Linked DNA regions of Homo sapiens. The protein of the gene in region 5 purifies or fractionates together with the protein of the main gene of each other region. This does not show direct contact. Each region holds a gene or a part of one and is shown on either strand. Other genes may lie near its edges. The genes, in order: PTPRK, GPR107, TRMT44, PCDH1, CD48, CLSTN1 and CTHRC1.

Evidence for each region.
Region 1: the proteins of CD48 (region 5) and PTPRK purify together in Homo sapiens (affinity purification with mass spectrometry; one large-scale study listed by BioGRID and IntAct). This does not show direct contact.
Region 2: the proteins of CD48 (region 5) and GPR107 purify together in Homo sapiens (affinity purification with mass spectrometry; one large-scale study listed by BioGRID and IntAct). This does not show direct contact.
Region 3: the proteins of CD48 (region 5) and TRMT44 purify together in Homo sapiens (affinity purification with mass spectrometry; one large-scale study listed by BioGRID and IntAct). This does not show direct contact.
Region 4: the proteins of CD48 (region 5) and PCDH1 purify together in Homo sapiens (affinity purification with mass spectrometry; one large-scale study listed by BioGRID and IntAct). This does not show direct contact.
Region 6: the proteins of CD48 (region 5) and CLSTN1 purify together in Homo sapiens (affinity purification with mass spectrometry; one large-scale study listed by BioGRID and IntAct). This does not show direct contact.
Region 7: the proteins of CD48 (region 5) and CTHRC1 purify together in Homo sapiens (affinity purification with mass spectrometry; one large-scale study listed by BioGRID and IntAct). This does not show direct contact.

The regions. Positions count from the first base shown.
Region 1 is NC_000006.12:127,978,596-127,982,479, forward strand, and holds part of PTPRK (receptor-type tyrosine-protein phosphatase kappa isoform b precursor), read right to left. Parts: intron 2,695-3,884; coding exon 2,521-2,694; intron 1-2,520. UniProt on the Homo sapiens protein: Regulation of processes involving cell contact and adhesion such as growth control, tumor invasion, and metastasis. Negative regulator of EGFR signaling pathway. Forms complexes with beta-catenin and gamma-catenin/plakoglobin.
Region 2 is NC_000009.12:130,056,696-130,060,579, forward strand, and holds part of GPR107 (protein GPR107 isoform 3 precursor), read left to right. Parts: intron 1-3,884. UniProt on the Homo sapiens protein: Has been proposed to act as a receptor for neuronostatin, a peptide derived from the somatostatin/SST precursor.
Region 3 is NC_000004.12:8,468,277-8,472,160, reverse strand, and holds part of TRMT44 (probable tRNA (uracil-O(2)-)-methyltransferase), read right to left. Parts: coding exon 3,815-3,884; intron 3,181-3,814; coding exon of another isoform or gene 2,876-3,180; exon of another isoform or gene 1,660-2,875; intron 1,078-1,659; coding exon 961-1,077; intron 1-960. UniProt on the Homo sapiens protein: Probable adenosyl-L-methionine (AdoMet)-dependent tRNA (uracil-O(2)-)-methyltransferase.
Region 4 is NC_000005.10:141,868,191-141,872,074, forward strand, and holds part of PCDH1 (protocadherin-1 isoform 2 precursor), read right to left. Parts: intron 1,438-3,884; exon of another isoform or gene 1,415-1,437; coding exon of another isoform or gene 1,327-1,414; intron 1,242-1,326; coding exon 379-1,241; intron 289-378; exon of another isoform or gene 1-288. UniProt on the Homo sapiens protein: May be involved in cell-cell interaction processes and in cell adhesion.
Region 5 is NC_000001.11:160,680,794-160,684,677, forward strand, and holds part of CD48 (CD48 antigen isoform 1 precursor), read right to left. Parts: exon of another isoform or gene 2,413-3,884; intron 676-2,412; coding exon 409-675; coding exon of another isoform or gene 302-408; exon of another isoform or gene 1-301. UniProt on the Homo sapiens protein: Glycosylphosphatidylinositol (GPI)-anchored cell surface glycoprotein that interacts via its N-terminal immunoglobulin domain with cell surface receptors including CD244/2B4 or CD2 to regulate immune cell function and activation.
Region 6 is NC_000001.11:9,729,772-9,733,655, forward strand, and holds part of CLSTN1 (calsyntenin-1 isoform 1 precursor), read right to left. Parts: intron 3,776-3,884; coding exon 3,630-3,775; intron 2,126-3,629; coding exon 1,990-2,125; intron 1,620-1,989; coding exon 1,435-1,619; intron 935-1,434; coding exon 737-934; 3' UTR 1-736. UniProt on the Homo sapiens protein: Postsynaptic adhesion molecule that binds to presynaptic neurexins to mediate both excitatory and inhibitory synapse formation.
Region 7 is NC_000008.11:103,370,277-103,374,658, reverse strand, and holds the start of CTHRC1 (collagen triple helix repeat-containing protein 1 isoform 1 precursor), read right to left. Parts: upstream 3,122-4,382; 5' UTR 3,003-3,121; coding exon 2,853-3,002; intron 2,153-2,852; exon of another isoform or gene 2,108-2,152; coding exon of another isoform or gene 2,000-2,107; intron 1-1,999. UniProt on the Homo sapiens protein: May act as a negative regulator of collagen matrix deposition.

The DNA.
Region 1 (3,884 bases), on a different chromosome or scaffold from region 5:
TGAGAAAAGTTAGAAGAAAGGAAGCTCTTCTTCCAATCAAATGTCTGCTCCATGCAAAGGTAAGTCAAAGCAGACTGACGGCTATCTACTCATTTTTTGAGCCACAGGGGAGGGGATATGCATGAGGAGGAGCTGATAAGAGAGGAGAAGACTGAAGACTTCCTATTCTTTTTCCCTCTAAATGCAGGAACATATGTAAGGCTTTGAAATTACAGAATTCTTGGCCCTAGCTCCTAATCCCTCATAGACCTGGCAAAAGGGTACTAATGATGGGGATAAAGGGTAGGGAGAAAGAAGTGAACAATAAACCCTGTTCTTGTAAATCAAACCAGCTTTACTTCTCCAACGGTTCATTTGCACTACTAAATCCCCAGAACAGCTTTAACTATGAAATGTCTTTTTTTTGAATCACAGGGGATTAAGCAGACAGTAAGAGCAGGTGGATTACAAGCTTCAACTTTCATACAGAAAAAAAGACAAGCTTGGACAAGAAAGCAAGACCCCATCTTTACAAAAAATAATAAAAAAAAAATTAGCTGGGCATGATGGCATACACCTTAGTTCTAGCTACTTGGTAGGCTGAGGTGGGAGGACCACTTGAGCCCAGGAGATTGAGGCTGCAGTCATCTGTGATCATGCACGACACTCCAGCCTGTGCTACAGAGTGAGAGCTTGTCTCAAAAAGAAAAAGAAAAAAGAAAAGAAAAGGAGACAATCTGGACATTGAGAAAAATTTGACAAAGATGCCAATGGCAAAAAATTCAAAGGCATCAATGCTTTTCTAAATATTATTATTTTCTCCTTTTCTTGTTCACACATCCTTTTTTTATTCCATATTTAGATGCAGAAATGAAAAAGTATTGTATGCCATCTCTCTATTTAGTATATTTGCCTTTCCAGACACCTAATATAAAAAGAAAAGGTATAATTAGGATTTAATGTGATTTCAGTGGATGTGATTAATGGCCAGGCAAGACTCCGATCACAGCAAGGATGAGAGCTTTTCACAGGCAAGAGTGACCACAGCAAGGACGAGAGCCTGCCTTTAGACTATTCCGCTTTGCAGCACCAAAAAGAGTAAAGTAACTGGTGAAGACTACTCGTAGAAACAGAATGTGGGCTTAACAGGAACAATAACTTAGAAAGCCTGTTATAGTCAGAAAGAAATGAACCGTGGCTTCTAATTTCTCCTTGATATGGTTTCATAGGAGAAAGGGCAAAAGCTAGAAATGAAGGCAGTAAACTGTTTAAAAAGATTATAAACCATGATAGCTTTCTTGCTTCTTTCCAACATAATCAAAGTAAAGTGGCCAAAGTCATAATTTAAAACTTTCTTTCCTTGGGAGGCCAAGGTGGGCGGATCATGAGGTCAGGAGTTTGAGACCAGCCTGGCCAATGTGGTGAAATCTCATCTCTACTAAAAATACAAAAAAGGCCCGGCACGGTGGCTTACGCCTGTAATCCCAGTACTTTGGGGGGCCGAGGCAGGTGGATCACCTGAGGTCAGGAGTTCAATACCAATCTGACCAACATGGTGAAACCCCATCTCTACTAAATACAAAAAATTAGCCGTGCATGGTGGTGCATGCCTGTAGTCCCAGCTACTTGGGAGGCAAAGGCAGGAGAATCGCTTGAACCTGGGAAGCAGAGGTTGCAGTGAGCCGAGATTGTGCCATTGCACTCCAGCCTGGGCAACAAGAGCGAAACTCTGTCTCAAAAACAAAAACAACAACAAACAAACAAAATAAGCGGGGTGTGGTAGAGCACGCTCCTGTATTCCAAGTTACTCAAGAGTCTGAGGCAGGAGAATTGCTTGAACCTGGGAGGCGGAGGTTGCAGTGAGCTGAGATCATGCCACTGCACTCCAGCCTGGGCGACAGAGTGAGACTCTGTCTAAAAAAAAAAAAACCAAAAACTAAAACAGAAAACTTTCTTTCCATATTGTTCTGTCTATGGGCTATATAACACCCTGCAATTTAAGATTTTAGAATGGGGCAAGATTGTTCTTTCATTATGATGGATGTGTTAACATAATACCATCCATCCCCTCTCTAGTTACTTATAATAGTCCTTATTGATTAATGGCCAACAAATTAATTGTAAATTATTGAAACATTAAATGTCAGAAATAAAAATTTCCCAAATTAACATGATTTTTGTAGGATTTGGCATTCTGTGATTTAAAAAATTCATTTCTAATTATATTCAAAATAGATAAGGCATGATTTTCTTTTCTGAAAATAATTAAGATGAAATTTATAACTTGCAATATTTACTACATGAATATAATAATTGACAATCAAGCTCCAAATCTACAATAAAGCTATAAAAATGACAGTTCTTAAGAATCTCTATAGGGAAAACCTAAAATCATTTTCCAAAAAAATGTGTTTCAATAAAAGTTTCCACTTTTCCTTTTTAGGTTATTTTAATTTCCTCGAAAAGAAAACTAGCCAGTGTTCAGTTGCATTATGTAGCTTTCCACAACACTCTACACTAACAAAGAGGGCAGTCTCTTACGTCCATAAGAGCAGCATTGATGTAGTTACTGCTCTCCCCATCAATTGTAATTAAAAAAGGCAGACATCTGTCAGGTGGCAGCATGTCCATGAAACGGTTCTTGTCATGGTTCCTTGGCAGGCACGCTATACTGCAGTCTTCAGCTTGTAGTCGAGGGGTGACTGAATTCAGAGTCTAAAAAGAAAAGAGAACCCAGGTTAAAAGACAGTGTGACCCATTTAACAGTATAACACAGATCCATCAGGAATTTAGAAGGCCAAGTAGAAAGTGAAGGATTTGTGCGAGGCAATGGCATTTGCTACTATGACAGGCTGATAGACCTTGTAGTTAAAGCTAATGAAGCCTGAGAAGTGACAAAGAAACAAGACACACATTGTTCAGGGCTCCTCTTCTTAAAAGGAAAAGGTACGCTAAACAACACTGCTACCTGCAAAATGCATTGCCTTAACCAAAGAAAATGCAATCGGGCAGTCCATTATGATAATGACCCTTCATCACACTGGGAAACGGTATCATTTGTAGTAACATCTGGGCTTGCCATATTTGAAGATAAGCTATGGCATGTTGGAAAGAGCACTGGATCAACAATCAAAGAATTTGGTCTCTGCCCTTGATTTTATTTTCACCCACCTTCAGGGGTGTTTTAAGGGCAGTGAAAACATTTAGGGCTATTTTGAAATAACATGTACTACAAACTTCATTTATTATTATTATTACTATTATTATTTTTGAGACAGGGTCTTACTCTGTTGCCCAGGTTGGAGTGCAGTGGCAATATCTTGGCTCACCACAGCCTTCCAGGGTTAAGCAAACTTCCAGGGTCAAGCAATCCTCCCATCTCAACCTCCTGAGTAGCTGGGACTACAGGCATGCACCACCACACCCGGCTATTTTTTATATTTTTTGTAGAGATGAGGTTTTGCCATGTTGGCCAGGCTGGTCTTGAACTGCTGACCTCAAGATCTGCCTGCCTTGGCATCCCAAAGTGCTAGGATTATAGGTGTGAGCTGCCACTGAACCCAGACTCAGTTATAATTAATGTGCTTGATCTCATCACATTGTGAGTGACCCAGGTCAAAATCTGTATGACTGCATGAAAAAAAGGCTATAAATACACACTAAATACACACAAATCACCACTCATTTTGACTTGTTATTATTTCTTTTTTTTTTCTGAGACGGAGTCTCGCTCTGTTGCCCATGCTGGAGTGCAGTGGTGCAATCTCGGCTCACTGCAAGCTCCGCCTGCCAGGTTCACGCCATTCTCCTGCCTCAGCCTCCCGAGTAGCTGGGACTACAGGCACCCGCCACCATGCCTGGCTAATTTTTTTTGTCTTTTTAGTAGAGACGGGGTTTCACCGTGT
Region 2 (3,884 bases), on a different chromosome or scaffold from region 5:
TGGGCGGATCACAGGGTCAGGAGATTGAGACCATCCTGGCTAACAAGGTGAAACCCCGTCTCTACTAAAAATACAAAAAATTAGCCAGGCGTGGTGGCAGGTGCCGGTGGTCTCAGCTACTCGGGAGGCTGAGGCAGGAGAATGGCATGAACCCGGGAGTCGGAGCTTGCAGTGAGCCAAGATCACGCCATTGCATTCCAGCCTGGGTGACAGAGCGAGACTCCTTCTCAAAAAAAAAAAAAAAAAAAAAAAAAAAGAAAGTTCACAAATTTGTGTTGGGCCGCATTCAAAGCCATCCTGGGCCGCATGCATCCTGGACAAGCTTGTTCTGAGTTCTTGCCCAAGGAAATGGAAATCATTTGAAGAGAGCCTGTCAGAGCAGCAACTTTAGATTGTCTGTTTTGCTTGAGACTGAGTGAAATAGGGTACTTGATCAGATTAGAGACCCATAATGGCAAGGATAACATGAAGAGGTCACTGAGTACCAGGAGTATGCGTTGATCTCTTAAAACCTGGCTGCGCCTGGTAGCTCACACCTGTAATCTCAGCACTTAGGGAAGCTCGTTTGAGGTCAAGAGTTGGAGGCTGCGGTGAGCTATGATGGCGACACTACACTCTAGCCTGGGCGACAGAGCAAGACCCCATCTCAACAACAGCAACAAAAATTAGCCAGATGTGGTGGTGCATACCTATAGTCCCAGCTACCAGGGAGGCTGAGGTGGCAGGATCCCTTGAGCCTAGGAGTCAGAAGCTGTAGTGAGCTATAATGGCTCCAGCCTGGGGGACAGAGTGAGACCCTATTTCTTAAAAAAAAAAAAAAAAAAGACAAAGCAAAACAACCTTTTTATTGTGGAGAATTTCCAATATACTAAAGCAGATAGAATAGCATAATGAACTCCCATGTGCCTGTCACCCTCAATAACCATCAACACATGGCTGATTCTGCCTCATCCCACATACATCAATTTCTGGTTCTTATTTTTTATTATTTTTAAAATTAGAAATGAGTCCTCTTATATTTTTATTGTCTTACTCCATGCTACATTTTCCACCATTCTTCTGGCTTTCCCAGTCTTCTCACAGTCCATCTCTTTTGACTTTTCCCTATATTCCTTGCCTTTTTATTTATTTATTATTATTATTTTTTTTTTTTGAGACAGAGTTTTGCTCTGGCACCCAGGCTGGAAAGCAATGGCGCGATCTCAGCTTACAGCAACCTCCGCCTCCCGGTTCAAGCGATCTCCTGCCTCAACCTCCCAAGTAGCTGGGATTATAGGCATGCGCCACCACGCCTGGCTAATTTTTGTATTTTTAGTAGAGATGGGGTTTTGCCATATTGATCAGGCTAGTCTTGAACTCCTAACCTCAGGTGATCCACCTGCCTCGGCCTCCCAAAGTGCTGGGATTACAGGCGTGAGCCACCGCTCCTGGCTATTTATTATTTTTGTTTATTTTTTTAAAGACCTGTCAGCAGGAAATACTCCTTGCCTTTTAAGAACAACTTTATTGAGGTATAATTTACATACCATAAGATCACCCATTTTAACTGTATAATGCAATGATTGTTAGTAAGTTTACCGAGTTGTACAGCTATGACCACAATCTAGCCACAGAACGTTTCTGTCACCCCATAAGATCCCTTGTGTTGGTTTAGAATCAATTCCCATTCCCACCACTAGTCCCAGGCAGCCACTAATCTACTTTCTGTCTCTATAAACCTACCCTTTCTGGATGTTTAATGTAAGTGGAATCACAGGATGAGTAGGCTTTTTTTCTTTTTTTTTTTTTAGACGGAGTCTCGGACTGTTGCCTAGGCTGGAGCGCAATGGCGTTATCTCGGCTCACTGCAACCTCTACCTCCCAGGTTCAGGCGATTCTCCTGCCTCAGCCTCCCGAGTAGCTGAGATTACAGGCACCTGCCACCACGCTCAGCTAATTTTTGTATTTTTAGTAGAGACAGGGTTTTGCCATGGCGGCAAGGCTTGTCTCGAACTCCTGGCCTCAAGCAGTCCGCCCGCCTCGGCCTCCCAAAGTTCTGGGATCACAGGTGTGAGCCACTGCGCCCGGCCGATAGGTAGGCTTTTGTGCCCATCTTTCTTTCTTTCTTTTTTGAGCTTCGTTCATTTTGTGCCATGTGTCAGTAATTCATTCCTTTTTACTGTTGAATGGTCTTCCAGCGTGTGGATATATCTTCTTTTGCTTAGCAGTTCACCAGTCGATGGATGTTTGGGTTGTTTCCACTGTTTGGCCATTATGAATGATGGTGCCATAAACGTTCACATTGCAAGGCTTTGTGGGGCCATATGTTTTCATTTCTCTTGGATGATATCCAGGAGTGGAGTAGAATTGCTGGGTCATATGATAGATTTATGTTTAACTTTTTAAGAAACTGCCAAACTATTTTCCAAAGTGGCTCTACCATTTTACATCCCACTAGCAATTTATGAGAGTTCTCTTTCTTCACAATGTTATCAGCATTTGTCATTGTCTTCCTATATTATTTTAAAGCATATTGGCTGGGTGTGGTAGCTCATGCCTGTAATGGCCTTTGGGAGGCCAAGGCAGGTGGATCACCTGAGGTCAGGAGTTCGAGACCAGCCTAGCCAACATGGTAAAACCCTGTCTCTACTAAAAATACAAAAATTAGCCGAGTGCGGTGGCGGGCGCCTGCAATCCAAGCTACTGGGGAGGCTGAGGCAGGAGAATCACTGTAACGCAGGAGGTGGAGGTTGCTATGAGCTGAGATTGTGCCACTGCACTCAAGCCTGTGCGATAGAGTGAGACTCCCATCTCAAAAAAAAATAAATAAATAAAGCAAATCAAAGGCATTGCATCATTTCATTCTTAAATATTTTGATATTACCTGTAAAAAATAAGAGCTCTTTTAAGAACATGGCTACAATGCTATTATAACAAAAAAATCCTTAGTATCATATGTCAGATCAGATTCAAATTTTCATTGGTCATAAATGGATTGAAAAAGTTTTGAAAAATCAGGATCTAAGTCACATCCTCATACTGTGATCAGTTAATACGTCTTTTTTTTTTTTTTTTTTTTTTTGAGATGGAGTTTGTTCTTGTTGCCCAAGCTGGAATGCCATGGTATAATCTCGGCTCACTGCAACCTCTGCCTCCCGGGTTCAAGTGATTCTCCTGCCTCGACCTCCTGAGTAGTTGGGATTACAGGCACCTGCCACCACACCTGGCCAATTTTTTGTATTTTTAGTAGAGACGGAGTTTCACCATATTGGTCAGTCTGGTCTCGAACTCCTGACCTCAGGTGATTTACCCGCCTTGGCCTCCCAAAGTGATAGGATTACAGGCATGAGCCACCAGGCCCAGCGTGATCAGTAAATAAGTTTTATTTCGGGGGGAGGTTGGGGGGCGCACGGAGTCTCATCCTGTCCCCCAGGCTGGAGTGCAGTGGCGCGATCTCGGCTCATTGCAACCTCCGCCTCCCAGGTTCAAGCAATTCTCCTGCCTCAGCCTCCTGAGTAGCTGGGATTACAGGCACCCACCACTACGCCCAGCTAATTTTTGTATTTTTATTAGAGATGGGGTTTTGCCCTGTTGACCGGGCTGGTCTCAAACTCCTGACCTCAGATGTTCTGCCCACTTTGGCCTCCCGAAGTGCTGGGATTACAGGTGTGAGGCACCGCGCCCAGCCTATCCATTTCTTATTAATGGAATAAAAATGATAATCCGAGTTTTTTTTTTTTTTTTTTTTTTTTGAGATAAGGTCTCATTGTGTTGCCCTGGCTGGAGTACAGTGGCTATTCACCAGTGCAAACATAGTGCACGATAGCCTCCAACTCCTGGGCTCAAGCCATCTTCCCGTTTCAGCCTCCAAAGTAGCTAAGACTACAGATGCTTGCCACTGTGCT
Region 3 (3,884 bases), on a different chromosome or scaffold from region 5:
CTCACAGAAATGTGTGCTTAGGGCATGGTGGTGACACAAGAAGACACCTACTATTCTTAAAGATGCACGTGGAAGTACTTAGGGGTGAAATAGCATGCTAGCTAGAATTTGCTTTAAAATACTTACAGAAAGAGGAAAAAAAAAAAAAAAGCGCCACAAAGCAAGTTATGGCAAACTCCCCAGCCGCTGGCGCTGGTAAACCATGGCTCCCTGCCCTGTTCCTGCCCCCTCTGTGCACACCTGGAAGCTGCAGATGATGGAAGTGTGTACACCACTGGCACCTGGGTGAGCACCTGCTACATCTCCCCCCTCCCTCACTGCACCACCGGCTCCAGAAGGCCAGGGATGTGTCTGCCTTGCTTTGCGGGCTGAGTGAATGGACAAGCGGGTGGAGGGCCCTCCTGCCTCCCCATACCCTGGCAGTCCTGGAGTCACAGGGCGTTGGGGAGCAGGGGAACTGGGTACCAGGACCTCCGCCTGCCCAGGCCCGTGGGGCGAGGGCCACAGGAGTCCAGGCCTCCGCCTGTGGGGCAGGGCTCACTCTTCCCACTCCCCACCCTGGCTCTGTGGCTCAGGATGCTTTCAGTTTGCAGCAGCTAAAGATGACGCCAAACAATGACCCCCAGCCAACAGGGGACCGGCCAGCGGCTACCCGACTTGCTCTGTCCTGCGTGGAGCAAGTGGAGCTGAGGCGTCAGCAAGCACAGCATAGGGGGAGAGAGACCAGCCTGGGGACATCGCATGGGACGAGGTCCAGAGGAGCAAGGAGGGAACGGGGTGACCCACGTCCCACCCTGAGGTCAAATGCCACCCACGTCAGAGCTGGGTGGGGCACCGCGGAACTTGCTGCTTCTGTCAGATTCTTCAGTGAGTCTAAACCACTCTAAAATAAAACATTATTTAACTGAAAAAAGGGGGAAAAAGAAGGAAAGAACGGCGGGGGAGAGGCGGACTCCGTACCTTGGAACACCTGGTGGCTGTTCCGGAGCAGCGTCTGCAGGCCCCCACACTCCCGCTTCAGCCTCCGCAGGGTCTCCGTGTCCAGCTCGTTGGCTACTTCTGCCAGAGATAGGCTCTCTGTGGAAAAACGGGTTTTTTTTTTCCCCAAAACAACAGCAAAATATTACGAACCTGTCACACAGGCAGAAACAGTCCATTTCAGTTCCATACACTCACACGCGTTATGCACTCCAGCACGAAGGACGATTCCATCTCACCTAACCCACACCACACCGCACCAAACCGTGAGGGCCGTGGCGTCCCCACCCAGCTAAGGTGGCACAGCCTGACAAGACGCAGCCCCACACATGCCCCATGCCCGCACAGGGCCAGGCGTCAGGTGATGCTGCCTGCTCTGGGTGGTCACCTCAAGCTCTTCTCACTGGTGACCCATGAAGGGGGGTGGCTGTTTGGAGCCAGGGTTTCTCAGACTAAAGAAGGAAGGCCAAGCTGGCAAGCCTGGGGCCTGAGCCTTCCCAGTGGCTGCTCCAACCATGGGGCAGCCAGCCTGGCGCTACCGGCTCTAGGGTGGCCAGCAAGGCCATGCTAGGCACTAAAAAAAGGAACAGCACAGACACCACAGTGATGGTCTCTTTCCCATTCGAATTTCTGCTTTGAGAGCCTGCAGGTATTTCAAAATGCTCTAATCAGAAAACCTGGTGACATTAAAGTCATTTATTACCAAAACATCAAATTGGATATGAATGAAAGCTGGTTTTCCTGCATGTATTTGCCAGGAACTTCCTATCTGCCAGGTGCTGCACCTCACATCTTATCCACACCCTCCCAAGCTGCAGGAGAGCGGAGGAGACGGCGCCTGTCTGTATGCAGCTGAGCCTGTCAGACCCCTACGGATCAGGACACCACACTCCTGACCCAGGAGCCTGGTGCTGGCAGCCGCTGTCGCAGCTGCTGCGAGAATCCTGCCCACCCAGCCTGGCCAACCTTCTGAGTCCACCTCTCGGCTGTCTCAAATCCATTCTGAGAGGAGCGGGAGTGTTTTAAAAAAGATCACATATTGTCCCAGTCAGCCTTCCCTGTTGCCCCGGCTCTGGCCCAGCATGGACTCCATAACAGGGAATCTCACACTCAGCCATGGGTGCCTCCTGGCCTGGCATATCCGGCCTCTTGGTTTCTCATCCTTTGACGTGTGCGGTCTTGACTCCTAGCCAGGCAGGACTTGGAGCCTCTTGAGGGCAGGGCCCTTTCCTACCCTATTTCTCAGCAGTGTCCCACAGGGACAGACGCCGAGCTAGGATGGGTGAGGTCCTGGAGACAGAGCCACACATGGCCCACAGGCACAGAAACGCAGAGGTGCCTGCCTGAGGACAGGCTGGGTGGGGGCGACCAAAGGCCCTGAAGGCCGCCTGTGGGCGGGAGGGAGGCAGTGGGCTGAGAGGCCAAGGCCACGTGGAGAGTCCCTAACAAGCCCCAGACCCACGGACACCCATCTGGAGGGGACGGGGGTCCAGAGCCTGTTAGGTGCCCTGATTCCCAAGTTCCAAGGCGCAGGCAGGACTGAGCCCACCGCTCACCCATCCCCGCTCTCCATCTCCAGGTCTGTTCCTCCTTCCTCCTCACCCACCGAAAGCCGTCCATCCCAGGCACAGCTGACATCTGTGTGCCCGTCATCTCCTGGGAATTTAAAGGTCAAACTGCACTCAAGAACTGTCACTGTTTACTGCACGTGGGAACTTTCAGACCACACTGATGTCCCTGGGGCTCTGGGTCCCAGTTGCCTGTGGTGGGCTCCATGCTCTGCCAGCCTCAGCCTTCTTCCTCTGTGCTCCAGCCCCACCACAGCAGGGTGCCTTTAGTCAGCAGGGCCAACCCAGAGGCCCCACGGTGCCTGGTGGTTTGCAGCTAGTCGGCCCCATCAGCCACTGAGCCAGGGCCACTCTCGCCAGATGGCTAGAGGCTCTGCTGACCAGGTACCATCAGGTTCGAATGATTTCTGGAGGGGCCGTCTATGCTCCATGGCCCGGTCCCATCCCACGTACACATGGTACAAGAGGACAAAGGATGAAGAAGGAAACGGGTATGATTTTGTCCCAACATTCATAGGTGAGGAAAGCAAAGCCTGGAGAAGAAGGGTTTCCCTCAAATGCGCAGCCAGGCAGAAGTCACCGACGGAGGGGCCGGGAGGGGATGGGGCTCCGTGCTCTTCTCCAGTTCCCAAAACTGCAAGAGAAGCCAGGCGTTGGCTGCAGCTCTACACCACCCTCTGGCGGCCAAGCAGCATCCCTGCCCGGAAGGAGGCGAGGTCCTTACAGCCCTGGCTGGCTCTCTGAATGCCGTTAATTTCAACACACCACTCACCTGAGAACATAATTTCAGCACACCACTCACCCCATGAGAACAATCGATGTAATTTTCTCCTTTTGCCATGGATGATTGTTGTGTTTTGGGGATTTCAAAGAGAATTAAATTATCGAATCACAACAGCTCCAAATCTTACCACATACTCAAGGGGACAGTGCATTTTGCTTGCACTCAGTAACCTGTTTTCTCTTTGGATAATTTCTAGATTGAAAATGAGTAGTTCTAGCCCCTAAACCTGCATGTTTGGTAAAAGTTAATTAAGGGTCCAAACTCTGTCACTCCCTGGAAATAACAAAGTCCTTTATGTTTATAAGAGCTATTTGGAAAATTTTAAAGAATTTGCTTGAAGAGAGCCTATGCACCCACCATCAATGGCTTTTTCAAAGTGTGTAGTCACAGGGCCACACCATTTCATGTCGGTTCTGAAGACGTGAATTCCTGCCCTCAAGCCTGGGAGCGTGCTAGCCCCTCCCTAAGATGGTGGACAGCTTACCTCCCCCATTCCAGGTCTTCAAACTCCCATTTCGAGAACTTCTTGTGTTTAATTGCTTTCCACCTAACAG
Region 4 (3,884 bases), on a different chromosome or scaffold from region 5:
TCTCAGGAGAGATTCTACCTGGATAAACGGTGATTCCTTTGTTCCAACTCAGCTCACCTGGCTAGCAGAGAAGGATCTACTTGACTAGGGCGGGAGTTTTACTTCTCAGAGGTTCCCCCAGCTTGAGTCTGCCTTAGGGGTCACGGGAAACTGTTCATATGCTATTTCACTGTCACCTAAGTAGCCTGATAGAGGAAAGTAATATCACCTGCTGGGGTGGGGTGGGAAAGACTCCCCTGGCTGAGTTTGGGGAGAAGGGGTCTCACTACAGTATTCTGGCAGTTTTTCCCCTAAGTGAAGGGAACTCTCACCTGGTTGGGTGGGCTCCCATTTCTAGTGGTGGGTCACCCTGACAGTTATACGGAGGGGGCCTCTCACCTGGATGACCGAGTGGCCTATGGGGCTATTCTCAGATAGTTCGGCCTCATAGGAGGGCCGCTCAAACTTGGGGGCGTTGTCATTGGTGTCAAGCACGGTGACACGCAGCAGGGCACTGCTGGCGCGTGGGGGGCTGCCGCCATCCTGCACCTTGATGGTGAGGTCATAGGAGTCCCAGCGCTCACGGTCCAGGTTGCCCATCACAATGAGCTGTGGTTGCTTCTCCTCCTGGTCCTCTGCCACCTGCAGCCCAAATAGCTCCTGGGCCTCAGGCCCAGCCTGCAGCTCATAGGATGCCACACCGTTGGGACCAGCATCACGGTCTGAAGCCAGCGGGATGGGGAAGAGTGAGCCGATGTTGGTGTTCTCAGGGATGGCCAGAGTGATGACTGGTGAGGCGAAGTTGGGTGTGTTGTCATTGATGTCTTGTACTTCTATCTGGCCCTCTAGCAGCCGGGGGCTGCCATTCTGCACGAGGTCTGTGATAGATACCTCAAACTCCAGGATGCAGGGATCACCAGGGAGCTGGTTCTGGCATTCACGGAGCCCCTCACGGTCGATGGAGGTCTCGGTGGTGAAAATGTCACCTGTCTTGCCATCCACGCGAAGGTACGGGGCACCCACCTCTAGCTTGTACAGGTGCCCCACATCTGGAAAACCATAGTCGGCTGCGAGGCTCCCAATGAGGGTGTTGGGTGGCTGTTCCTCCGGCACCTTGTACACTACCCGAGTGGCGTGGCCTGGGGATGGAGCCAGCAGGAGCAGCAGTGCTAGCAGCATGGAGGGCAGCAGTAGCCGTTGCCCCCCAGGGCCTGGGCTGTGCCTCAGGTGCTCCATCCTGGGAGGCCCCAGAATCAGGAGGGCTGCAAGGGGAAGAGGCAAAACAGAGGCCATGAGCTGGGAAGAAAAGCCTGGCCCTGAGCTGCCCAGAGCTGGCCCCATACTCACCCTCTCCCACTGACACACGATTCTCCACAAGAGCAGTCAGTCCCAGCACAGAACCCCGATTCCAGAAACTCAGATCCCTGAATCTCATCCACAGCTGGGTGTAGCAGCAGTGTCTGCCCCAGCTGGAGGAGCCAGTAAGAGGCCTGGCATGCCTAGAGCAGCTCCCGCCCATGGAACACCCTCACCCACCTGACGCTCCCTGGGCCCAAGCCCGGCTGCCCGCCCTCTTTCCTTCTTTTCCTCCTTGCTCTCTGCTCTGTGCTTCACCCAACACCTCCTTCTCACGAGCATCCTGCCTTAGTCACCGATGGTAATTACCTTGATACTGAGATAGGGAGAGAGAGCCAGTGGAAGGGTGAGACCTCGAGCATCCCCAACTGGAGCACCCCTCCCCACATGCATGGTAGGAAAGAGACACAAGTACGTCCTTACACACCCCAGACCCTGGGACCTTGACTTGTCACACTGGGCTCCATTAAGGTTGGCTGGAGGGAGAGGGGATGATGTCTCATTTCTCTTTGTTCTGAGATGCCAAGTCAGTGCATATGCATGAGGTATGACATCTCAAATCCTCTTTTTCTGACAATCACCCACGGTGCCCAGTATTCTCCACCCCCATAAAAGGCCAGCTTGAATTGGGCAAGGCTTGTGAAAATGGTTAGGGTTGAGGAGTAGGTGTTAGCCTTCCCGACTTTCCCCCAACACATATGCCCCAGAACGTGCACACAGGCCACAGAGCGTGCACACATGCCCCAGAGCATGCACACATGCCCCAGAGCATGCACACAGGAACATGCACAGTTGCTAGGGCTCCTCTCCTCTCCCTCCTGCTGCCATGGGCAGGTGCGTACAAGGGAACACAGGTCAAGATTGGGGTCAGAACTGTGGTCAGGGCTGACTAGCCCTGGAATTGGCATTGGGAGCTGCCCTGGCCTGTCCTTAGCAACAGGGAGCCCAGCAGGTCTAACTGGGACAGAGCTGCCGATGATAATGACACCAGCAGCCTTTCCCTGGCCACTCCCCCACCCCACACCCTCTGGTCTCTGGATGAACATCTGGCTCTTATTTGACATCCATCTCCGTATATCCAGCCCCTACTTCACACTTGCCTCTCCCAACCTCTGCCCTAGTCAACCACAAGCTGTACCCCATCACAACAATAACCCCCTTCTTCTGCCCATCTCCCCTGGCTTTGAGGTCGTGCATTTGCAGATCCCAGCTAGACCCAGCTACTGTCTCTGTCTTGAATGCCCCCTCCTCTCCAACAAAATCATGGCCAGTCCCTCCTTTATTCAAATCCAAAATCTTTGGATCAGCAGTTTCTTTGGAGGCTTCTGGTTCAGTCTCCTTTCCCCACTTCCTCACTTTTACCTGGAATACCTTCCCCACACCTGGAACACCCACCCCACATCAATCCCACTGAGGGCAGGCTCTGGCCCTCCAGGAAACCTTCACAGTCCTCTCCTGCCCACGGTGACCTCTCCTTCCTCCAACTCACAGCCACTTATTGTCTGCTCCAATCCCAAGGCAATGAATCATGGGGCTGACTGGGACACCGCCCGCCTGTGTTGTTCAGCTTCAGTATTGTGCACCTATTCCTGAGTTCTCTGCCTTTCCAGGCAAACACAAAGCACTACGAAGGAAGGGACAGTACTCTGTACACTCACTCATCCCCTGCCCCCTAACAATGCACCTTTGCACATCTGGGTACACTGTAGGGACTCAGTCATGCATTCAACAAATGTTTATTGGGCATTTACAATATGCCAGGCTCTGTCCTGGGCACTGGGATGCAGAAGTAAACAAGACTGGTCCAATCTGCCATGACAGTGCTTCTAACTCAATGACTATTTGTCCATTTTGTTTGGTTGCTTCTGTATACCATTTGGCGAATGTAAGGCAGCAGGGTGGAGAAGAGCGAGGGTTGTGGCATTAGACAGTCTGAGGCAAACCCAGCTGCTCACTTCCTGGCTGCATGACCTGAAGCAAAGATTTAGTGCCTCAGTTTCCTTACCTGTAAAATGGGGATAATACTACCTATTTCCTAGGGTGTTTGAGATACTGTGGGCTAAATGTGGGTACTCAACAAAGGACTCCTTCAAAGCATTTAGCACAATTGTAGTTGTGTACCTGTTTGGAAAATGTGTTAATTGTCTGTCTTTGCTCCAAGATGGTGAGCAGAAAGCAGGAGAGTTTCTACTTTGTTTGCTCCTACCTCCTCAGGGCTTAGCCCTGGACCTGGCACACAGTGGGCACTTGGCAGCTCTTGAATGACTGTTGTTATTTTGCTCTCTAGGCTTAGCCTTTCCTGGTACTTGCTGTGTGACCACTGCTCTTTTACTTGCTCACTTACCCGATTCCCCTACACCACTAAGAACTTCCTGGGGTAAAATGTAAGTCTTCTCTGTTTAGGGCACATAGTAGACTCTCAGCAAATGTTCACTGAATGCACAGAGTCTTTAGATAAATCAAACACATCCCCTCCTCTGTATGGCCTTCCCCAAGCACAGGCCCCTCCCTAAAGTGTGTGCGGCGTTATCAGATTGGTGTGAATGTTA
Region 5 (3,884 bases):
TTCCTTGGCTGACTTCGGCTGTCTAATGAAGCCCCTCTAGACAGCTGCTCGCCCACTTGCCCTTCCTTCTCCCTGCTCACCCTGATGTTTCAGTCTACTCTATGATGACCCTGGCCTCAGATGTTAGGACTATGCTTTGTTAGAGCGGGAGAGGGAAGAGGAGTATCAGAGATCTCTCCCAAACGTCCTTTGCAGGTGAGAACACTGAGCCCCCACGAAGTTGAGGTAAGCTGGCTGGGAGGTGGTGGTAGAGCTGGTGGCAGAACCCACGTCTCCCAGCTCTCCCAGACACCTTAGGGATTCACCACCACACTGTGCAAGGAGGCTGAATAGGACCCCCAGCCTTTCTTTGTTCAAAACAACTCCAGTTACCCTGTGCCCCCCTCAGCTCCCAGGGATCCTTCTTACCCAGGGTACAGGGTGGACTGAGGCAGACCGTGCCATTCTTGCTGCTCACAGAATTGCTGACTTGGCAAGTATAACACCTGGAGTAATTATGTGGCATAAGGGTGGTTTCAAGCACACTGTTCTGGAGCTCCTTTGGGAAGGGCCTTTTGTCCCCATACCAGGTGTAGTTTACAGACTCGCCAGGTATCACACATGACAGTTTCAGATAACAGTTGTCATCCATGTCTTCTATCTTCTCAATTTTGATGACAGGCTTGGGTACAGGGTCTGAAAGTGAGGAGGATGTTATAAGATGAGACAGTGAGGCATTCATGCTGTGAAGGTTTAGCCAACAAAGAACAAAGGGATCCAGGGAAGGGGCCTGAATGCCCCAGGAGGCAGAGTCATGAAGAAGAAGTTCTACAGAGGGAGCCAGTGAGCAGCCTTGACCTCCTGAGGCCTCACAGACTCACTGCAAGAGCGGCTTCTAGGCAGTGAAGCTAAGCTGCGTCCTGGAGGGGGCGCCACAGTCCATCATATGCTCTGGGAACAAAATGGGGTTATGATCGTGTGTGAGCCTGAACGAACAGCCCAGAGACTTGCTGGGGTCAGACTTAGTATATCAACTGCCTGAGATGCTCAGGGACCCTTCTCTAGCAACGGTTCATGGCGGGCACCTTGGCTGGTCTGTCTTTCCAATTATCGGATTCAGCTTCAGCAAGAGTCCTAAGGTAAGAGGTACCTGTCTGCGCGTGGCAAAGTCCTTTGCACAACCATCCAGTGCAGGTGCCAGCCTTCTAGACTCTGGCAGAGCTACAGAGAAGAACTTCATGTAACTTCCAGCCGCATCAATTGTGATAAACAGATTGGTCTGCTAACTTTGGTATCTCCATGTCTAGCACAATCCCTGCCACATGGCAGGTATTCTATAAGTATCTCATGAAAGGATGAATGAAGTAGTTATGAGATAGAAAGGATAAAACACAGCCGGGTGCAGCGGCTCACACCTGTAATCTCAGCAATTTGGGAGGCTGAGGCAGGAGGATTGCTTGCAGCCAGGAGTTAAGAGACCAGCCTGGGCAACATTGAGAGACTCAGTTTCTAAAAAAAAAAAAGAAAGAAAAGAAAAGAAAAGTAGCCAGGTGTGGTGGTGTGCACTTTTAGTCCCTGCTACTCAGGAGGCTGAGGTAGGAGGATTGCTGGAGCCCAGGAGTTCCAGGGTGCAATAAACTATGATTATACCACTGCACTCCAGCTTGGGTAAGGAGAAGACCTTCAAAAAAAAAAAAAAAAGAAGAAAGAAAGGAAGAAAGAGAGAGAGAAGGGAAGAGAAGAGAGGAAAAAGAAAAAGAAGGGAGGGAGGGAGGGAGGGAGGCAAGTAGACACAAAAACACTAGTTTTGGAGTGAGACCAGCCTGGGTCCTGGACTTGACTCTAGTGGAGTGACATTAGGCAAGGTAGTTAACCCCCTTGCTGTCATCTGTAAACTGACTCTACCTCATCGCGCAATGTTAGTAAGATAAAACGTCACCTGTCATGGATAATTGCTTTTTGAAGAGTGTAAGTATTGCATACATTCTAGAGGCCATTTTACCATTATTACTGTTGTACTGCTGCCGGAGAGAATGAGAGATAGTCCCAGCATCTGGTCCTTCCTTGGCTAAGGCCGGTTTACCTGCAATCCTCTGAGATCTTTTCATTCTGGTCAGGGTGAAACATCTGCAGAATCAATGCAACTCAAATCCCATAAGATTAAAAATTGGCAGAGAATTGACCAGATCAGAGCTTGCCTCTTGGTTGTATGTGTGGAGAGGCTCTAGAAGCTCTACCAATCTGGTCTCTAGAACTCTAGTTTTGTCTCCTCTGTGAAGCTGATCTCAGATCGCTAAAAGATTGCTCAGACTACAGAGGTGATAAAAGTTTCCTGGACTTCCCCTATATGTTTTAATTGAGCAATTTTTATCCTGGTTTTCACCATTTCCTGTGTTCTAGCCTCATATCTTACACTCCTTCTGCATTTCCCATGGTGATCAGCACAGCACTGGGCACTTTGCTGATGGAATTAATTGAGCCAGCTTGGGTTGTCCAGCTCCAAGATGCTCGCTTTGAGCTGTCAGAAATGCTTGGGCTGGACCAGAGGACCATTTTTTCTGCTAATCACTTCCTGGAAATCTTACCCTCAGGCAGGATGTGCTGAAGCCCAAGCCAGTTTGTGGATTTTTAAGTACTCAGAAATTTTGCAAGCTTTTTGTGAAACCATTAGTTTATTGAAATCAACTGTGGTAGCAGTATTTAAACCACAGAAATTACAAAGTTGGTAAATGCTACGCTTTAGGGCTTTTTTTTTTTTTTTTAAATCTTGTAGAGCTTGTTAACCAGAACACCACTGTAAGAGACCTTGAATCTTTTTGTTCCCAGGACTTTCTGAATTTTCAGCCCATATGACATGGAAGAAGAGTTAGAAGGGGAATCTGACTGCTTGGATCAGGGACTGTCTGGCTGGTGGAACTTGAATGTATACAACACTCTTCATTTGCATGTTTTGACATTTTAAAAAATGTTTTCACTTTCCTTATCTACTTTGACTCTAATAACATCCTGAAAGGTAAGTAGAATTATTCTCATAATATGATGAAGAACCCAAGGCTCTCAAGGGAACACCACTCTTGGATTATTTAGCCCCGCTCTTCTACAAGAATTGCATACCCCAACCCCTGGAGCCCCTCCCCATATCCATGTTTCTGCCCTATAATCTGATCCTTTCACCAAAAATGTTTAGATCAGGTACACACACCTGAACTAAATTGGGACTATCAGTTTCTCTCTCTTTAAATTGCCCTGAGAATTGAAACTCAGAGGAGCAAAAGTCTAAGTTTTGAGAGATAACATGTGTAAAATGGCAGGAATCCAAATCCATAGGCACAGTCCACAGATTCCTGAAGCTAGGGGTTCTGGCCCGAACCTGGTTTTCAATCTTCTCCCCTTAAGCCCTTCCTAGCTCTTTTAAACTCTTTGAATTGCTTTAAATAGCCCTAGTTTCTTAAACTAAATTCTCCTTTTTTGGTAAAGGTACATTGAATTAGTTTCTGTTATTTGCTATCAAAAGAATCTTACCTAATATGGGCACAGAGATGTGAAGATCTTTTTTCAAGGCTGCACAGCTAGTGAGCAACTGACCAGTTTTGAACCCAAGTCTGTCTGGCTCCAGGTATAATGCCTGAGTCCTTATTCCATATACACTGGTTAGACTGGAGCTATGAGTGGAAGTTTTTTTGTCCTGCCCATTATGAAAGTTGAAAAATTCTCCTGATAACTCCTGCCCCATTCTTTATATTAATACATTCTCTTTTTTCTTAAGTCCAATGAAGCCTAATTTCGGAGATATAATCAAGATGAGCTGAGCTGATTTAGGTTGATCACAGGACAAAATGAAGGAAATAGGAAAAATCTCTAGTTTTCCTTCTCTTCAAAGCTTAGACTCACTAACTTCAGAAGAG
Region 6 (3,884 bases), about 150 Mb from region 5:
TACCCTGATCCAGTCTCTTGAGCAGCACAGCTAGAGGCCTGTGGCCCCCGACTCCCAGCCATACTCAGACCTGAGCAGGGGCTGGGGCGGGGCTGGGCGGGGTGGGCCTCTCCCTCTGGGGTCTGGGGAGGGAGGACCCGGCGGGAAGAGCCCGTGCTCAGAGCTCCGAACTTCACTTTACATTCCAGTCCCGGGTTACACTAGCACAAAGGACACAAGGAATCCGATTTATTTACAAAATATTAAAAAGTCAGTTAATCATCTACACAGTACCCCCCATCCTGCCATTATTTATACATGCACTAGTTTGGAAAAAATAAAAACTTTTTTTAAAAAAAGAAAAAAATGATTACCGGGTGGGAGTGAGCATGTTTTACCCTTTGTCAACGAGCCCAGCTGGCATGGCTTTTCTGGAGTGCGAGGGGCCAGTGTCCTCTCCCCGGGGGGAGACTCCAGACACAAACGCGGGGCCTGAGGCGCTGGGAGGCCCCTGTGCGAGCCGGATGGCGGCCAGAGAGGACGTGTCAGCTCCTCGTGGGACTGAAGAGCGCGACCAGGCAGAGGGTGGGCGGGGAGCCTAGGGTCCTACACACCAAGCACAGCGACGATCGTGGCGGGGAGGGGTCTGCACACCTACTGGCCGAAATGACTTTGTACATCGTGGACCCTTGGGACTGGGAGAACGGATGGCAGCAGAGTCTTCGAAAGCAGAAACCGAGGTGGCCGGGGGCACGGGTCAGTAGCTGAGGGTGGAGTCATCCCACTCCAGCTGCTGCTGCCGGGTTGCGTTCTGGGGGTCGCCCTGCTCCCCCTCCTCCTCCTCGCTGCTCTCCGACTCGGCGCTGGTGATGTCATCCTCTTCTTCGCCGTCCTCGCTTTCCTCTTCCTCTTCCTCTTCCTCCTCCTCCTCACTGCTGTGCTGGTCCTCATAGGTCTGGCAAGGAGAAGTGACGGCCACATGAGTCCGGCCCTGCCCACAGCCCCGTCACCTGGCATTCTCCTCTCGACAGCCACAGAGGAAGGAGAACTTGCCCCAGCGTCTCCCTCCCCAGCGACAGAGCAGCCAGGACGGCACCGGAAGTTATATTAGAAGTGAAGGGAAAACAAAGCTCCAGTCAGCACCCACGGAGTCACCCACATACAAAGCAGCTTGGGACAGCACCTCAGCTGCCCCACCAGAGAACTCTCTCAGGATTACCATGACCCAAGAGCGCCAAGCCCTGGCATGGCTCTTCTCTACACTTAAGGCAGAACGGCCTTGAATAAGGTCTCTCTCAGCCTCGGTTTACCCACGAAGACACCTAAGCCCCAGGCTTGCTGAGCAGATGACGCGATGGAAAGCATGTGAACCTGAAGGAGCCGCGCCGTACCGGCTTCTCGGAGGCCCTGGCCTGTGCTGCCTCTCAGTCCTGGAGGTCGCCCGCCCACTCCTACCTCCATGGGGTTGACGGTGATGGTCAGGGCAGAGTCGTCCCAGTCCATCTCGTTCTCCTTCCCGGTGTCCTGATCCCGCATGGTCCGCCGATGTGCGGCCCGGATCCGAAATACCCCCAGGATAATCATGAACACCAGGAAGCTGACGCACACCACGATCACAACTGTCGCAGTGCTGGGGACGACTGTGGGAGAATGAGGGGGCGGGATGCGAGGTCACTCGGCCCAGAAGGCCACTGTGCCCTTGACCTCCTCGGCTGTGCCTGGTCAAAACGGGCTGGACAGCACGCTTCAGCTGAACCCACAGGCCAGGAGGAAATACCAGGAAAAGCTCGCCATGGGCCTCCAACCTGGCTCGGCCACGTCCTGCTCCATGGCTGCGGGTGACATCATCTGCCCTCTTCGAGGGCTTTAGTTTCCTTGTGTGTGATGGGGAATAATTGGGACAGGGAAAGACCGGCGGTCATGCTGAGCAGGAGGCTGTGCCCACGGTGGGGTGGGGGCAGGGCGGACGGCATGGAGCATCTCCGCTTGGTCTCCCTCCCCATGTCCTACCTGCGAACGGGTGGGGGTTGGCCAGGTTGTGGCCTGACAGGTCAACAAAGGAGCGGTGTTCCGGGTGCACGAACTGTGGCTGGGCAGCCATGTGGTTGGCGTGTTCCATGGGGTTGGCCGTGTGGATTACATTCACCTATAGCAGAGAAAGAGAGGATCGCTGGAGACAGGCATCCTGAGCCTGTCCAAGAGGTGACAGTGGAGTCCCGCAGCTGGCATGACCAGTGCCACTCAGAGTGGCTCCTGGACCGCAGCTGGGGGCAAACGGAGCTACGGGAAAAGGACAGAAAAAAAAATCAAGAGTAAGCACTTAAAAAACAAAAACAAAGAAAAAGAAACAAAAACCAAACAAAAAAGAGTAATAAGCACTTAGAAACTGCTATAACAATCTAATATTCTCACACATTCCAGAAATGTATCACTTTTCTACTTATTAGTATTTGTTGAGACTGGGTCTTGCTGTGTTGCCCGGGCTGGAGCGCAGTAGCTATTCACAAGCATGATCACGGCTCACTGCAGCCTGGAACTTCCCTGCTCAAGTAATCCTCCCACCTCAGCCTCTCAAGTAGCTGGGACTACAGGCAAGCACCACGCACCTGGCTGCAATCCATTTTTATTGCATTTTATAAAAGATTATGCCCAAAACAAGAGCAGAAAAAGAAGCCGATGGTCCTTCCCCATGGGTCGTTTGGGAAGCACTGGCGTAGACCTTTTTCCTCAAATCACAGCCGTGTGAAAGACAGCACCAATCACTGCCATGGATTTCCTTTCATATCTCTTACCCTTTGACTCAAACAAAACAGGCACCGAATTTAGCATTCTGCTCTTGAGTTCATGGTGATATTCCATTGCTAAGAGTAACTTTGGGTCAATTTTCTCCAGGCCACAGAGAGCCTGAGCGATGAAGCAGCTGCTGGATAGGTCTGTAGACGACCTCAGAGCAGGAGGAGCTACCCTCTAGCCTGTGTGGCCTGTGAGTCACCAGCGCCAGCCTCAGCAGCACTGGTCCTGCCCGTGCGGGTCCCTGCGTGAGCCCCTCTCAACCTGGGCCGAGGACTCGACTTCATTCACAGGAGGGCCAGTGACCTGGCACAGATGCAGAGAACTTTTGGTTCCCTGGATGCTGCTCTTTCTAAAACAGTGTCTTTGGCTGGGCACAGTGGCTCACGCCTGTAATCCTAGCACTTTTGGAGGCCAAGGCAAGTGGATTGCTTGAACCTGGGGGGACAAGACCAGCCTGGGCAACATAGTGAGACCTCGTCTCTAAAAATAAATAAATAAATAAAACCACATCCTCCTGTTTCTCTCATGGGAAATCTCAAGAAGCCCCAGAGGCATTAACTGCCACTTGCTCTTTGTCACCTCCCTGCAAAGTTCCTTAGGCTCCAACTCAGGCTGAGGCAGCCAGGGAAAGGGGAGCACCCCCCACCCCAGCTCACCCCAAACACAACTTGTCACTCCAACAAGCCCAGGTGTAACCTGCAGCAGGCCCCAGGCTGGAAAGGCGACCCCCTAGAATGAGCCTGTATAGCTGCCATCATGAATGCTCTGAGGTTGGCGTTTGTGAATATTAGGGCTGCAAATCAGCGCCCTCACTCACTGCTGCTATTGGCCCTGCTCAGTGGGAGCCTTGTACTCACCTCCACCTTAAATTCGTTGCTGATGTAGCGGCCATTCAGCTCTGAGCAGATGAGCTTAAACTTCCGGTCAAGCAAGGACCTGGCATGCCAGTTCCGATAGCGCAGCAGGTGCAAAACCTCCTCGTAGCTGGCCATGGTGTCCACGCCTGCAGGGGTTGAAAGGGGGAAGATTGCCGGGTGGCTTAGGGCAGGAGCATGGGCAGGGCTGCAGCCGTCAGCACAGGCAGGCTCAATTAGACACCCAGGTTAGCTAGG
Region 7 (4,382 bases), on a different chromosome or scaffold from region 5:
GTAAGTGTGTCCACTGCCCTGGGTGGACCTTTCAGGATTTAGACCTGGGGAAGAGAGCATTAGCAAACCCACCAGCCTAGCACACATAAGCCATACATGCCAATGCTGTATGATCAGTGGTAAAGGTGATATCCTGTGCCCCACCTGTCTAATTCCTGTGTCTACACCTGAATTGGTTCAGCTAGGAACAAAGGTGCCGTTTATTAGACACTCCAAAACCCAATGCAATCCATTTAAATGTTTACTCTAACATTTCCTCTATTTGTGTAAGTTGCCTAGTATTATTCTGTATAACTATATTTCCCAATGAAAACAAAAAACAAAGTTTCTTAGATATTAAAGTAACTTCAAAGCTTATCTTTTGACTACAGTATCTGGGATTGGATGATAAAATCCAATAGTTGTCTGGGAAGAATCCTATATAATTAGACTGATGCTTGCTAATCAATTTGTGTCTCCATCGCCAGTTTGAGTTTTGGTTTGATAAATGACTTTTTAAGTCTTTGACATCGCCATTTTCCTGACTGTAAGAAGAAAAAGACACTACTACTTATTTACTGTCAGAGAAATAGTTAAAAAAAAGAAAAGAAAAAGCATTTAACAATTACAAAAGTATTCAAAGACACAAAAAGTAAAGCATTTTAAAAGTGCAAAATATTTCAAAATAGTTTGGTGTGTTTTAGACTTTATTTTTATTTTAGTAATTTAATTCACTCTCACAAGCAGATATATACAATGTTTAGACATACATTTCAAATGGGAATAAGACTGCTTCTGATATTCTTTGATTTTTTTCACTATTATTCCCCTCAGGGCAAGATGCTACACAGACTAAATTTTACTTCATTATATATCAGTGGATCTCAACTGGGGACAATTTTGTCCTCCAGGGGACACTTGGCTATGTCTAGAGACATTTTTGGTTGTCACAACTTGGGAGAGGGGATTGCTACTGGCATCTAGTATGTACAAACGATGCTGCTAAACACGCGACAACGGACAGGACAAGTCCCCACAAGAATTATCTGGCCCAACATGTCCATTGTGCCATATTGGGAATTTTTATTCACCTTTTCATCTAAAAGATACATTTCAAAGACTATATAACTTTACTTGACTCGATTCCGCAGGTGTTACATCAGTCTTCTACTTTAAAATGCTAACCCAACATATGCTTAGTACTCTCAATAAATGTCTGTGGAATGAAAAAAAAAAGATGTGAAGGGAAGCGCACTTTTATACGCCCCTGTTTCTTTCACTGGCCACCAGGGGGCAGAGCTTTGTGGAAGCTTGAAAGGAACGCTTTGAAAGATCCTATACAAAGAAGTTGCTTTATAGAATCTGTTGAAACCTTAATGACTGTGGACTTCTTCTGTCAGCAAAACCAAATCCAACCTACAGGATGCACCTGAGCCTGACTGCAAAATCTTTTCCAAGTCTGGCTAGAGTTGTGGGAAACCACAGGTACTGTAAATCCTTGAAGGGGGGAAAATAGCAAGCTTCACAGGAAAAATGGGTATTTTGTGTATCATAACTACAGACTCATAAAATGCAAACTACACATGAACCATACTCATTTGGCACAGTTTTAATAATTTGGACACTTAAAATAGAACTGTTGCCTGAACACATAGTCCCCTTTTGTGGATCAAAATTACACAGCCTACCACCAAAAAGTGCTGTGTGAAATGGCGGGAATTTTTTTCCCAGCACTTTTGAATCCAATACAGAACTAGCTGCCAGGGAACTTGGTATATTAGCTCAGTTTAAAATGGCAGCTTAACAAATTCAAAACTTTCTTTTTAATTAAAAAAAAATGCCCCAACTTATGTCTTGCAATGCCTGTAAATCATGTTTGTCTGCAAGTGAGACTGAAGTTTATAATATGCCAAGGACTACGGTAGCTCTGAAAGGCTCCCTCATACCACAGGCCAGAGAACCTCTCCGCCCTCCACTGGGTTTGTTGATTTTTAGAGGGAAGGATTTTAAGCAAACATACCTTCCCACAGATGAGCCCCTGGAAAGCACTCGGGCCGTTCATTTCCAGTTTCCTGGAAACTGTTTTCTCCCGTAGCTTGACTGTGATGCTCCTACCTGGCGGCCACATATGAAGACCCAGGGTGTGTGTAATGACAGACTGCCCATTTGGTTTAAACAGAAGCAAAACAGGTCCTTAGAGGGTTAGCGCCGGGCCCCTTCATTTCCCTTTCCGGCCTTAAACCTTCTGAACCATTCCTAGCCCCAGCTGTGGTTGTCCAACAAAGTAAATTGCAGCCCATACTCCCTAGGAAGATGACCCAACGTGACTCATAGTCTTCAAGTTACAAAGAGTTGGACGGATGCTTTGTGGGGGTTGTTATTCTCTCTCGCAGGCAGACGTGGCCACCAGCCCCAACAAAGGACACGTTGCACCGCCCTGGCCCAGGCCCAGGTCCATGTGATCAGCGAGGCCAGGGTTTTTCCCAGGTCCACTTCGGACGTACCCAAGCTCCTCATCCTACTCTCACTGCCGCCCTATCCCTCCCACCCTTCCCAAGGGGTCCCCCTGGGGCCAGAAATTATTGGGGGACTCCCTGTACTTCGGGGAGACCCACCGGGCCCATATCGCATGTCCGCTCCACGATGGCCTCCCATTTTGGTCTCCCCTCTGAGTTCCAAGACTCACTGCACGCATAACCAGGTCCTTCTTCACCTGTAAATAAAAAGCATGACACCCCGGCGCAGCAAGACACACGACACACAGCTGTACAGACAGACACCCCCAACAGCCAGACTGACGCCCTGCCCGTGGGGCGCGCGGCCAGGTCCCCTCCACCAGCGCGGCGGTCCCGGCTCGGCTCCCTCGGACTCACCAGGTCCACCACCTCCCTCTGCCGGAGCTGCGCCTTTTGCTTCCCCTTGGGGATCTCAGAGGCGCTCGACGGCGCGGGCAGCTGCAGCAGCAGGAGCAGCAGGAGGCCGCGGAGCCGCTGCGGGGAGGCGGCGGGGCCCTGGGGTCGCATGGCTCCCGGCTGCCGGGCAGCGCGGAGCTGGAGGCGGAGGAGACCGAGGAGAGGAACGTGGTCAGCGTCTGGCTCCGCCGCGCTCCGAGGCCGCCGCAGGCTGCATCAATGCGCCTTTCACCCGCGCGCCTCTCTCCCTCCCTTAATTCCTCCCGCCCCCGCGACACCCGGAGCTTCCATCCCGTAATAGGCCCCGAGCCCCCACCCCGAGCCCGGCGTGGGGGCGGACCGAGAGCCGGGCCCGCCCCCTCCTACTGCAGTCGCTCGGCCTGTCAGGACCCCCGCGGGGCTGCGCAGACCCTCGTGGAGAGCCCGCCTGCAGGGTCTGGGCGGGGTGGCCCGTGGTCAGGAGCCGCAGGTCGGGGATTCCCGCAGGTAACACAGCGCCGCCTAAATGAACATTTTAGAGACACGTGGCTTAACCTGGGTACACGAGCCACCTTCAAGGGTCGTCAATCTATGGCATGGGTCGGCGAGTCTTATTTGTTTTTTGTTTGTTTGTTTGTTTTTGAGACAGAGTCTCGCTCTGTCGCCCAGGCTGGAGTGCAGTGGCGCCATCTAGGCTCACTGCAAGCTCCGCCTCCCGGGTTCACGCCATTCTCCTGCCTCAGCCTCCAGAGCAGCTGGGACTGCAGGCACCCGCCACCACGCCCGGCTAATTTTTTTTTTTTTTTTTTTTTTTTTTTTTTTGAGACGGAGTCTCGCTCTGTCGCCCAGGCTGGAGTGCAGTGGCGCGATCTCGGCTCACTGCAAGCTCCGCTTCCCGGGTTCACGCCATTCTCCTGCCTCAGCCTCCCGAGTAGCTGGGACTACAGGCGCCCGCCATCACGCCCGGCTAATTTTTTGTATTTTTAGTAGAGACGGGGTTTCACCGTGTTAGCCAGGATGGTCTCGATCTCCTGACCTCGTGATCCACCCGCCTCGGCCTCCCAAAGTGCTGGGATTACAGGCGTGAGCCACCGCGCCCGGCCCCGGCTAATTTTTTATATTTTTAGTAGAGACGGGGTTTCACCGTGTTAGCCAGGATAGTCTAGATCTCCTGACCTTGTGATCCGCCCGCCTCGGCCTCCCAAAGTGCTGGGATTACAGGCGTGAGCCACCGCGCCCTGCCTTATTTGTTTTTTGGAGGTGACATTTTTGGAGGCTGGAAGGTGGGGGTGGGGCGGAGGCAGGAAGAAACCATAGGTATCATCAGGTTTTCCAAGAGTCCCATGACCCAAATGATATATAAACGCTGTTTTCATAAGTGCTAACACTTACTAAGCTCTGGCACATTGCAAAACCTTGCACGCGTACTCTGTCCTCTCAGCAATCCTGGCGGGTTGGGAGGGGTAGATGCCTCCTGGGCTACTCTCATAAACGAATGAGGAAACTGAGGCT